2 linked regions of the Homo sapiens genome follow. The protein of the gene in region 1 binds, or shares a complex with, the protein of each later gene. Each region holds a gene or a part of one and is shown on either strand. Other genes may lie near its edges.

The links. Proteins that work in one complex are often made in the same cells at the same time.
Region 2: the proteins of RAB9A (region 1) and NDE1 are in contact, whole or in part, in a crystal structure (PDB 7E1T), measured with the Homo sapiens proteins. Residues at the interface, in NP_001182257.1 of Homo sapiens: Ile40, Val42, Phe44, Asn46, Gln59, Trp61, Arg68, Phe69, Ser71, Leu72, Pro75, Phe76; in NP_001137451.1 of Homo sapiens: Asp99, Gln102, Thr103, Ala105, Ile106, Gln109, Leu110, Tyr113.

The regions. Positions count from the first base shown.
Region 1 is NC_000023.11:13,692,113-13,699,152, forward strand, and holds part of RAB9A (ras-related protein Rab-9A), read left to right. Parts: intron 1-7,040. UniProt on the Homo sapiens protein: The small GTPases Rab are key regulators of intracellular membrane trafficking, from the formation of transport vesicles to their fusion with membranes.
Region 2 is NC_000016.10:15,723,205-15,726,853, reverse strand, and holds the end of NDE1 (nuclear distribution protein nudE homolog 1), read right to left. Parts: intron 2,694-3,649; coding exon of another isoform or gene 2,664-2,693; coding exon 2,603-2,663; coding exon of another isoform or gene 2,445-2,602; 3' UTR 2,208-2,444; coding exon of another isoform or gene 2,055-2,207; 3' UTR 1,967-2,054; coding exon of another isoform or gene 1,862-1,966; 3' UTR 501-1,861; downstream 1-500. Other genes in the region: MYH11 (myosin-11), read left to right, coding at 1-6, 1,862-1,966, 2,055-2,207, 2,445-2,693. UniProt on the Homo sapiens protein: Required for centrosome duplication and formation and function of the mitotic spindle. Essential for the development of the cerebral cortex.

The DNA.
Region 1 (7,040 bases):
GGCAACATAGTGAGACCCCCGTCTCTACAAAAAATAAATTAAAAAAAAAATTAGCCTAGCTCAGTGTGGTGGTGCATGTCCCAGCTACTCTGGAGGCTGAGGCAGAAGGACGACTTGAGCCCTGGAGTTCAAGGCTGCAGTGAGTCATGATCACACCACTGCATTCCAGCCTGGGCGATAGAGTGAGACCTTGTCGCTAAAAAAATAACAATAATTAAAGAAAACAACTCCACACTCGGCACAGAAGTACCTGTGTCATGGTGTTTACTGTGGGCAGACTTAAATAAAATGGGGAAAACTTGATGTGTGTGTTATAGTTTTGTACGGTTAACCACGTGTGAATATTTACAAGAATCAAATTGAGAAGCCATTCTTGTTGAGCATAAAATTCATCCTTAAATTTCACCTCACCAGACAAATAGTTATGCCTGCATTTTATCACTGGAATCGAGAAAGAAATGATGAATTTTTTAATGGCTTTTCCATAACTTTCTGGTGTTTTCTGGTCTCTTTTTCATGCCTGTCTAAGATCAGGCCTTTCAAAATATGTACTGCTTCATTCTGGTGGCAGTATTAACTGTTAGGTGAACTTTGGGAGGGAGTGGTTGACTGGAGCAGTCAAAAAGGATCGCATCTCTTTTTAGGCATCACTGAGTGTTATTCACGCAATCAACATGGCATCTTTTTGTCGGTAGCTTTGGTTTTTGACTCATGCCAATGCACAGCACGTTCTTTGCTGATGAATAGATTTCTCTGCCTCTTATCAGGAGTTGTCTGCTGTGGGGTAGGGAGGATGTTGAGTTACACACCTCAAAATGATTGCTAGTGCATACACATGGAATCTAACAAAAGTGACGTGTTTTATTCTGGGAAAGGTCGAGATAAATTGGTGCTAGAGTTGTCTTGTTTGATCATTAATTGGCTTGCTCCTCCAGCCAACTTAGGTCACCACATTTCCTTCTGGGTAAAATGAGATGGCTGTGCTTCATAATCTCTAGGAGATTATATGTCACAAAGTAGAGGCAGCAAATTATTAGCTTCCAAGTAGTTCTGCCCAGGCAATGTGTTAAGCAGCAGGAGGAGGAAGTAAGCCAAATGGAAGTGTGTGTGTGTTTGGGCAACGCATCTAACTTGAAAGGTGTATAGATAATAGACTCTTCAGTCAGAACCAAGCATAAGAGAATAGGATTTGTGACTAAGTAGGCCATCAACAGAGAACATTTATTAAGGACTTTTTTGTAGAGGAGTGAGGGTGAACTCAAAAAATGTTTCAGGGAGTTTGGTGGAAAGCTATGATGCAATTGGAAGGCGAGGATGCCTGAGGGAGGAGACGTGGAGCCACCTAGGTGTGTAGGCAGAGGGGAGGGAGGTCGGAGGCGGTCCCAGGCCGTGTTGCCAGAGAGCCCAGGGGTGCCAGGGCTAGTTAGATAACTTGGAGGAGAAATCTCTGTTTCTCACCATGACTCTTGGTACTGTGCATGTTGTGAAGCTGTGTGCTCTGGGTATTTCCACATTCTGGATTTTTCAAATCCTTTTGTTAATTTTTGACCATGGTGAGTTCAGGCGTTGTTATTATGTTGCTTATTATGAATACAGTGAGGATGACTAGGTGTAAATGAATGTAAGGTAACAGCTAGATCTGCCTGAGGTGGAGAGAGACTGGGTGTGTATTTTGGAAAAAAAATGGAGAAGTGAAACAGGCTGTTCAGGCTTCACATTCTGGCTGCATGGAAGCCAGCTCATTGCATTCTCCAGGAGTTCTCTGGGAGTCTGTGGACACAGACTCCACTTTTGTCTTAGGCCTGACTCGTACAAACATATTCTGTTGTTTGACAGGGGATGGAGAAACACTATAGAACAACTGGACACATTCATTTCATTGCCACATTCTTTATTCAAGTGTGACAGAGAGCAAAACAGTATAAAGGAGTTGAACTGACTACTGTATTTTAATTTCAAGTTCCTGTGAATTGGATTAGATTTTTGGGTACAGAAGCTAAGGTAATTTCCAAAAGGTTAGTGCCCATAAGACTGTCTATGTTCTCAGAGTTAGAAAAACCTGGGAAAAAAAAAAGCCTTACAGACCTCTGTTTCTACAACTTGCTGTGCAGAACTCTAACAGATAGGAGTGTTTATGCAGCTAGGTGACTGCTCTGGTCTGTGCAGTTTCACACCTGTGTATTTGATCAGATGTATATACCTGGAAATACATACATAATGTGGTTGGAAGTCAGATTAGAACTGCCTGAGGACTACCCATTGGTGAATGCAGAACATTCTTTGGAATGAGTGCTAGTATTCTTAAATAACATTTAAAAATAGTTGTTTGGGAGCAAACAGTTGCCACCCTCATAATCCACTTTAATTTGTGCCCAGTACTTGATTTTTATCACAGCAGTCCTGGAAAACCTAGCTTCATGAAGATATGATGTCATCGAAAGGAATGCAGTGCAATCTAATTAACTCCCCTCCAGTGGGGTGCCCTACAAATGTCAAGTATCTATGTTTCCCTCAGAAATTTAAAATAGCCCACCCTGCCCTTGTGAATTTGCCGTGATGCTTTGGGGCACCTCAGCATGCAGTTTGGGAACCTCAGGATTAGAAGTTGGTATTATTGGCTCTAGTTTATGGACTACAAGGTATAGTGGTGAGGAGAAAAGGCATCAAAGTCCGTTTTTAATTCTCCATCCCCCCTTCCAGTATCTGTAAGCTTTTCCCTTGGGCCCCTCATTTCCCCCAGAGCTTTGCAGTTTTGGGATGCTACCCTTTTAGTTGCTAAGCTGAGGGGAGGGACAGACAGGAAAGAGACTGCAGTTCAGGTTTCCTGTGCAAATCGTCCCTCCAGCTCCACTTTCCTTTGTGCTTTCTCTCCATTTTCTGCTGGGTGCAATTCCTTAGGAAGTGGGTCTGCTAGGGTAGCACAGGGATGTGGGTCATGGAATCTACAGCCTTTCAGGGACCCCTCGAGCCTCCGGACCCGGCCTGTCTGGAGAAGTCTCGAGAAGTGCCCGTGTGCTGTTCAGTTCTTTTCCAGTTCTCTGGTGGGAATCAGCTTTCTCATTGTTGGCTGCTGCTTTCCGCATTAGGTTTCATTGTCTCTTCACTCTGTCACTCCCGGACCATTTGCTTTCCACTTTCTAAATTTTGTTGCTGTCTTGCATCTACAGTTGTTCTTTCTTGGTGTCCTTTTTGGATTTGTACCTTACGTAGACCTTTTCTGTCACTGGGTGGGAGTGAAGATAACACATACTTGACCTGCCCTATTTAGTTAGACCTGGGGAAGTTTGTGGACTTCTGTTTATTGATCTATAAAACATGGATGATAGTGTCCAACTTGCAGGTAATTTTAAGGTGCTATATGCCAGGTACCTAGTAGATATTCAGTTAATAGTGGCTGCTAATATAATTACAGCCATAGCATTTATTATTTGAGCAAGCAAGGCAATAGCAATAGGTAGTGCGAAAAGTGGACATATTTCATGTGTGGCTGAATGAAGTGCGTAAGAGAAAAGAAAGAGATTTTCGAAATGGAGAAAATAATTAGCTCAGTTTTAGATATGTTGAATTTGAACTACCATCAGGGTACCAGATGAACATACTATACAAGGGGTTGCAAATTCTTGTCTGGCTCAGACATGCGGATGTAGACTTTAGGAATCACTGGTTTTTATAGCCCAGGGAGATACCATCTGGAAACAGGTAAGGGTTTCAGTCTCGTGAAATAGCTTCATGAAGAGCTTGTCAGGAAAGGGAGCTGTCTATGTTGAAGAAAGCTAAGGGGCCAAGGAGGAGAGAAAGCAGAACCTATTATCAGAGTGGTTTTATGGACAATTAGGAAACATTTTCAAGAGGATTACTGCCAGGCTGTTTGGACCTGATAGAAGCAGTAATGGGTGGTAAGTCCTGGCTCAGACTTGAAGGTCTCCCCTGTGCCTCTAGCTAGATGTGTGATCCTGTGTAAGACACTTTCCCAGTTAGACCTGTTTCCTTATTTGTTTTTAAAAAACACTTGAGGCCAGGCACGGTGGCTCACACCTGTAATCCTAGCACTTTGGGAGGCCAAGGAGGGAGGCTTGCTTGAGCCCAGGAGTTCAAGACCAGCCTGGGCAAGATGGTGAAACCTTGTCATTACAAAAAAAAAAAAAAAATTAAAAAAAAAATTAGCCAGTCTTGGTGGTATGCACCTGTAGTCCCAGCTACTCTGGAGGCTGAAATGGGAGGATCACTTGAGCCCGGGAGTTTGAGGCTGCAGTGAGCTATGATCATGCCACTGCCCTCCAGCCTGGGTGGTAGAGAAAGACTCTGTCTTTTAAAAAAAGAAAAAAGACTTGGGTACCCTTCCAAGATTTTAGTTCATGCACATTCAGACAGATGGCTACACCTGAGAGAATTCACTATATACTAGCTGGGCCTCAGGTGGAGATGCTGGTCAAACTTGCAGGTGTTTTCTAGAAACATACACAATGAAGTCCTGAGAGAAGAACTTTTCCCTGTATTCACCTTAGGGTTGTATGTGCCGTAGGGCATTCAGATGAGGACTGAGAAAAAGCCATTGGATTGGCCATTAGGAGGTCTTTGGTGACTTTTGCTGACAATCAGGGGGAAAGGATGGGGTGGGAGCCCTGGTGTCCTATAAACTGAGCAGAGAGTTAATCAGGTTTGCAGGCACATTGAGAAATGGGTAGTGATGGGCAGAGTGAGGTTGGGCTTGGAAAGCTTTTTGTGAGAAAAGTCAGTTTCAACACTTCGATAGGGGCAGACCTGGGGGGATCATTGACAAAGTGACAGTTACATTGGATAAACTGAACTTGATGAAGAGCTGCCTGCAGTGTTGAGCTGGTGACAACTTCCCTGCAGAGTGGTATTTGGGAGCCTCTAGTCTAGTCGAGTCCTATATACCGGACATAGCTGCCCCTCTTTAAATATATCTTCTTAGGAAATCCTCACTCCTTGTAATTAACTTCTCTAACAGTCGAGAAGTTTCCTTTTGCTGTGGCTCCATGCCTTGTGGAGCCCCTCACTCAGTGAGTTTGTATAGTTCCCCAACCCCTAGCTTTGTCTGCTGTAAATTAAAGACATTTGGTTTCTTATCGAACTGGAAGGGAGGCCTCAGAACCAATGTTTCTTTAGGTGATAGCAGAACGTTGCAGATCATTTTTGATTTGTGTTTTGCTGCTTTAATATATTTTTCTGACATATATGTTCAAATTCATTCCTTTCATAATTTGTTTTTCTTCCTGAAATATCTACCTTTAATTCCCCATGTTCTCATCTTGTGACTTTTATCTATGTCTTTGCATTTTAATTCTGTCTTCCAAAGTGCACTCTATTGTCAAAAAGTATTGTAAGTACCTTTTACAGGTAAGTGTCATCGCAGGTAGATTTATGCTTGGTTCTTAAAACTTAAGCAAAACAAAAAAAAATTATTCTCACTTCTCAGGACTAGCAGTTTCCCATGAGTAAGGCTGTTCACTGAACTATCACAGTTTATGGTCAAAGTGTGATATTCATAAAAGTCTCATGGGTGAGGGAGAAAAAGAGGAAATTCTGCTAAAGACAGAAACTCTTGAAGGGTGTTATGAGCTACAGAAATGGATCACACATAACATACAAATGATGCAGGCATGTAGCAATCAGTTCTTGGTGTCCAAACTCCTTAAGATCTGATGAAACATTTTTTGTTCTTTCCAGAAAAAAAGCGCAAGCACACAAGCTTCCACCAATGCTCTCATCCTTATTTCACATGTGATTCTAGGGAGTGTATTTTCTCCCTGAAGCTCATTTCATGGACTCCCAATTAACCACACTCTAGGCCTGCACTGTCCAACACAGTTCCCACTAGCCTCATGTAGCAATTTAAACTAGTTAAAATTAAATGAAAAATTCAGTTCTTCAGTTAGACCAGCTACTTTCCAGTGCTCAGTAGCCACATGTGATTAGTGGCTACCATATTGGACAGTGCAGATTATAGAACATTGTCGTCATTGCAGAAGGGTCTGTTGGATTTTGCTGCACTATATAGTTTCATGATGGTTTAAGATTTAGTTCCTTAACTAAGTCTTCTTTTTCTTTTTTTTCTTTTTTTTTTTTTTTTTTTTTTTGGCCCTTCTCACTTCCTCCTTTCCCACTCCCCCCACCACTGTTAGTGATTAGTTAACATACCTACAGAGGTGCCTTGTTTTAAGAAAAATGTTAACATATTTCTTAAAAGTTAAGTTAGCTGATTCAGCTTCAAAAAAAGTTACTTAATTGAAATAAGTTCTTTCAATAGGGGAGGTGCTCTGACATAGCGATAGTATGGTTTGATAATACAGTTTTTCTCCTCTAGCTGCCTCCTGTTCTTGAGGTAATGCTCAGTGATTAACTAGATAGGACTAGATAATTTATTTCACCTTGGCAGGTCTTGCCTCCAAGTTGGCCTATTCCTATGGTATTTCCTTTTCTTTCTTTTGCTTCTTCCTGCACACTAAGTATGGTATTTTCTGACAGTATTTTTCTTAATTCTTTATTTATTTTTCTTGGTAATTTCTTGCTGTAGAGCTGGTACCCATTAGACATAATGACTTTCCTTGACTTGCTTCTTGCTCATAAATTTCTGTAAGACAATCAGGAAGTTTTTAGAAACAAACAGTGGAACCAATTAGGCTGTTAAGTGAGACACGCCTAAATTAAGCTATGAGGAAATAAATACAGCTCCAGCAAAAATAGAAATAATTTTCAGATTATCCATGCTTTTGTTTCCCTGGTTTTCTTTGAACCTCATTTCCTCAAGCTATGAAGTGAAATGAAGTGGTAAGTACACCTCTAAGTAGGACATTCAGGGTGAATCCAAAGGAACTTGTGAATTTGACCAAAAAAAAAAAAAAAATCTGTTCCTAAATTTAAACCAGGAGTGATAAATTCATTTTAAGTTTTTGGAGGGGTTACAGAGTATGTGTTTTAAAATCTCAAGTTTTGAGAAGGCAGTTTACAAATGATGCCTGCTCTCCCTTTGGCAGCTTATTAAGGAATGTAGTCGTTTTTCAGCATTTGCCAGCTCC
Region 2 (3,649 bases), on another chromosome or scaffold:
CTGCAGGTGAGGAGGTGGCGCGGTGGTGTGGTGGGCAGTGCTGGGTGGTGCCCAGTTCTGTGGGGAGGAGCCTCTTCCCGGCTCGCTGAGGTCTCTCTTGCTGCAAGGCAAGTCCTTTCCTCTAGTTGCGTTCCTGGAGGAGAGGCGATGATCTCCCTGTTCAATTAAATATTAAAAAAACCTTCTGGCCAGGCACGGTGGCTCATGCCTGTAATCCCAGCACTTTGGGAGACAGAGGTGGGTGGATCACCTGAGGTCAGGGGTTTGAGACCAGTCTGGCCAACATGGTGAAAAGTCTCTACTAAAAATACAAAAATTAGCCAGGCGTGGTCGTGGGCACCTGTAGTCCCATCTACTCGGGAGGCTGAGGCAGGAGAATAGCTTGAACCCAGGAGGCAGAGGTTGCAGTGTGCGGAGACCGCACCATTGTACTCCAGCCTGGGCTAAAAGGGCAAAACTCTGTCTCAGGAAAAAAAAAAAAAAAGAAAAAAAACCCTTCCTTTTCCAATTTGATAAGTATTTATTGAGCACCTGCTGTATGCCAGGCACTGTGCTTAATCCTGAGATCCAACAGCAAGGAAGAAGAGACACTGTCGCTGCCCCAGTAGGACTCCAGCCGAGTAAGGGGAAGGGAAGGGAAGGGAAAGACATGAATAATCACACAAATGAATGTCAAATGATGCAGCAAAGGGAAGGCACATGATGCCCAAGTGTAAATAACCAGGGGGCCTAACCTGGGGGAGGAGGAGCCACGAAAGGCTTCCCTAAGGAGCATGGATAAGTCTACCAGGCAGAGGGAACAGCGTGTGCAAAGGCCCTGTGGTAAGTAGAAAAATTAGGAGAGAGACATACAGCCAGTAGAGCTGGAGTGCCCAGCTGGGGTTGGGGGTAGGGGGAGATAGTACAGAGTGGGGTTGGAGGGGGAGCTTGTACCCAGATGATGTAGGGCTTTTGAGAACCTATTACATGTATGTTGATCCTTACTCTGGGCAATGTGAAGCTGTTGAGGGGTTTTAAGCTGCTGAATGACATGGTCTTTTTGTCTTTGGTCTTCTTTCACTTGGCATAGCCATTTACCCTGCCTTGCCACTCATGGGGACGTGGCCAAAGTTTTCACAAATGTTTAACATGTCCACAGCCAGGGACCAAGGGGCGAGGGAAGAATTAAGTGAGATGTTTTTTTCTCACATGCAGTTGAGAGCAGGGCTTTTGCCGCCCTCATATAAGCAGTGTCAAGATCATTCATATCCTCCTTGTCAATGGAAGAGATGGAGGGGTAGGCTAACAGCCTCAAAGGGACTTATGCAGAGACACTAGGGAGTAAAAGCCAGAGAATACAGAGAGGACGTTTTTACCTTTAGGGCCTGCGTCTCTGGCTTTGGCCATCAGGGTCAAAGAGTAGGAGTGAGGAAGGAAGGGATGGGACAGCATCCCTGGGACGTTCAAGTACCATCCTGGTCTCCCTTCTCCAGCCTTAGAGAGTGGACCAGCCAGAGCACCTCGTCTGGACTCTCAGACCTGCTGCTTTGTCTCTACCAACCTTGGCAGGGATCTAGGATCCATTTAGTGGGATCAGGTCCCAGTCAATACCATTGGGGCTCAAATAAGTTCTTAGAACCACAGAGTCTAGGGCCAGGGTCCCAACTCATAGGTGACGGAGTTCCCTTCAAGCCACAGATTCTGTTTTTTTTGTGTGTGTGTGTGTTTTTTTTTTTTTTTATCAGAGTCCCATACCTCACGGGTATTTTCTCAATCAGTGAACACCTCAAGTACTAGCCCATGTGTTTTGAGTAAAAAGGGCTCCTTTCAACGAGGATCCCCTTCTAGAGGCTTTGACTAACCAGTCTCTTGGCACCCTTAGAATGAAGTTGAGAGCGTCACAGGGATGCTTAACGAGGCCGAGGGGAAGGCCATTAAGCTGGCCAAGGACGTGGCGTCCCTCAGTTCCCAGCTCCAGGACACCCAGGTGAGTGTCCTGCCACATCATCCAGGGGACCTGGGGGGTGGCCTTCCTCGGGGCAGGTCCCTGGGACCTCTTTGCATCCCTTTTGCAGGAGCTGCTTCAAGAAGAAACCCGGCAGAAGCTCAACGTGTCTACGAAGCTGCGCCAGCTGGAGGAGGAGCGGAACAGCCTGCAAGACCAGCTGGACGAGGAGATGGAGGCCAAGCAGAACCTGGAGCGCCACATCTCCACTCTCAACATCCAGGTGCCTGCCCCGTGTCCTTGCTTCCTTCATGGGTCCTCTCAACTTCTCTGCGCTGAGATCCCCCGCAGGCAGATCGCGGTGGAGTGTTGGTGCGATGGTGCTTGACCCCCCAGCTTCCCCTGCTATTGGGTTTCTCCAACGAGGAGACATGGTCTTCGCTTCTCAGAGTCTGTGGGGCCAGGGACAGGGGCCACTCATGGTCCCCCTCTCACCCTACCCTGGACGCTGTCCTTGTAGCTCTCCGACTCGAAGAAGAAGCTGCAGGACTTTGCCAGCACCGTGGAAGCTCTGGAAGAGGGGAAGAAGAGGTTCCAGAAGGAGATCGAGAACCTCACCCAGCAGTACGAGGAGAAGGCGGCCGCTTATGATAAACTGGAAAAGACCAAGAACAGGCTTCAGCAGGAGCTGGACGACCTGGTTGTTGATTTGGACAACCAGCGGCAACTCGTGTCCAACCTGGAAAAGAAGCAGAGGAAATTTGATCAGGTAGAGGGCGTGGGGTGTCCCCCACTCTGGCCATGGACGCTGGGTTGGGGAATCAGCTCTGCAGAGTATGACGCGTGGCTCTGGCCTGTGCCTGCATCCCCTCTCCACTCTGTGGGGAGCCATGGGAGGCTGTCTTATCTTGTCTTGGGCGACCATGGAGCATTAACGCTACCAGGTCACAGTAAGGATGGCAAAGAAGCCTTGATGACTGTGACTTTTCTGGGTACCAGCACCATGAGGGTCACCTGCACACATGGTGATGCCTTAGTTTCTAGCCTGAAGAAGGAATGAGGTGCTTATTTATTCACTAAATGTATTTACTGAATACCTATTGAGTAGTATTCCAAGTAATTCAGTTTCTATACTTTTAATACCACTCTTCCCTAAGATTTCATTCTGTAAAATTCCAAGTACACAGCAAAGTTGACAGAATTGTACGGTGAACACCTTTAAGGCCACCACCTGGATTCAGTCATTGACACTGTATTATATGAACTTTATCAGATACTTATTTTGAGACAGGATCTAGCTCTGTCACCCAGGCTGGAGTGCAGTGGTGTGATCTCAGCTCCCCGCAACCTCCACCACTGGGTTCAAGCGATTCTCCTGCTTCAGCCTTTCATGTAGCCGGGATTATAGGAGCACACCACTATGTCTGGCTAATTTTTGTATTTTTAGTAGAGATGGGGTTTTGCCATGTTGTCCAGGCTGGTCTCCAACTCCTGGCCTCACATGATCTGCCTGCCTTGGCCTCCCAAAGTGCTGGGATTATAGGTATGAGCCACTATGCCCGGCCCACATATTTATTTATAAAGACTAATTCTATCTATCATGCCTTATCTCTTGGGTACATTTCAGAGCAAATTACAGATGTCAGTACATTTCCCCTTCCACACCTCAACATTGCATATTAATTAGAGTTTATTTTTAAACACAATTTTGCTTCTTTTGGGGTA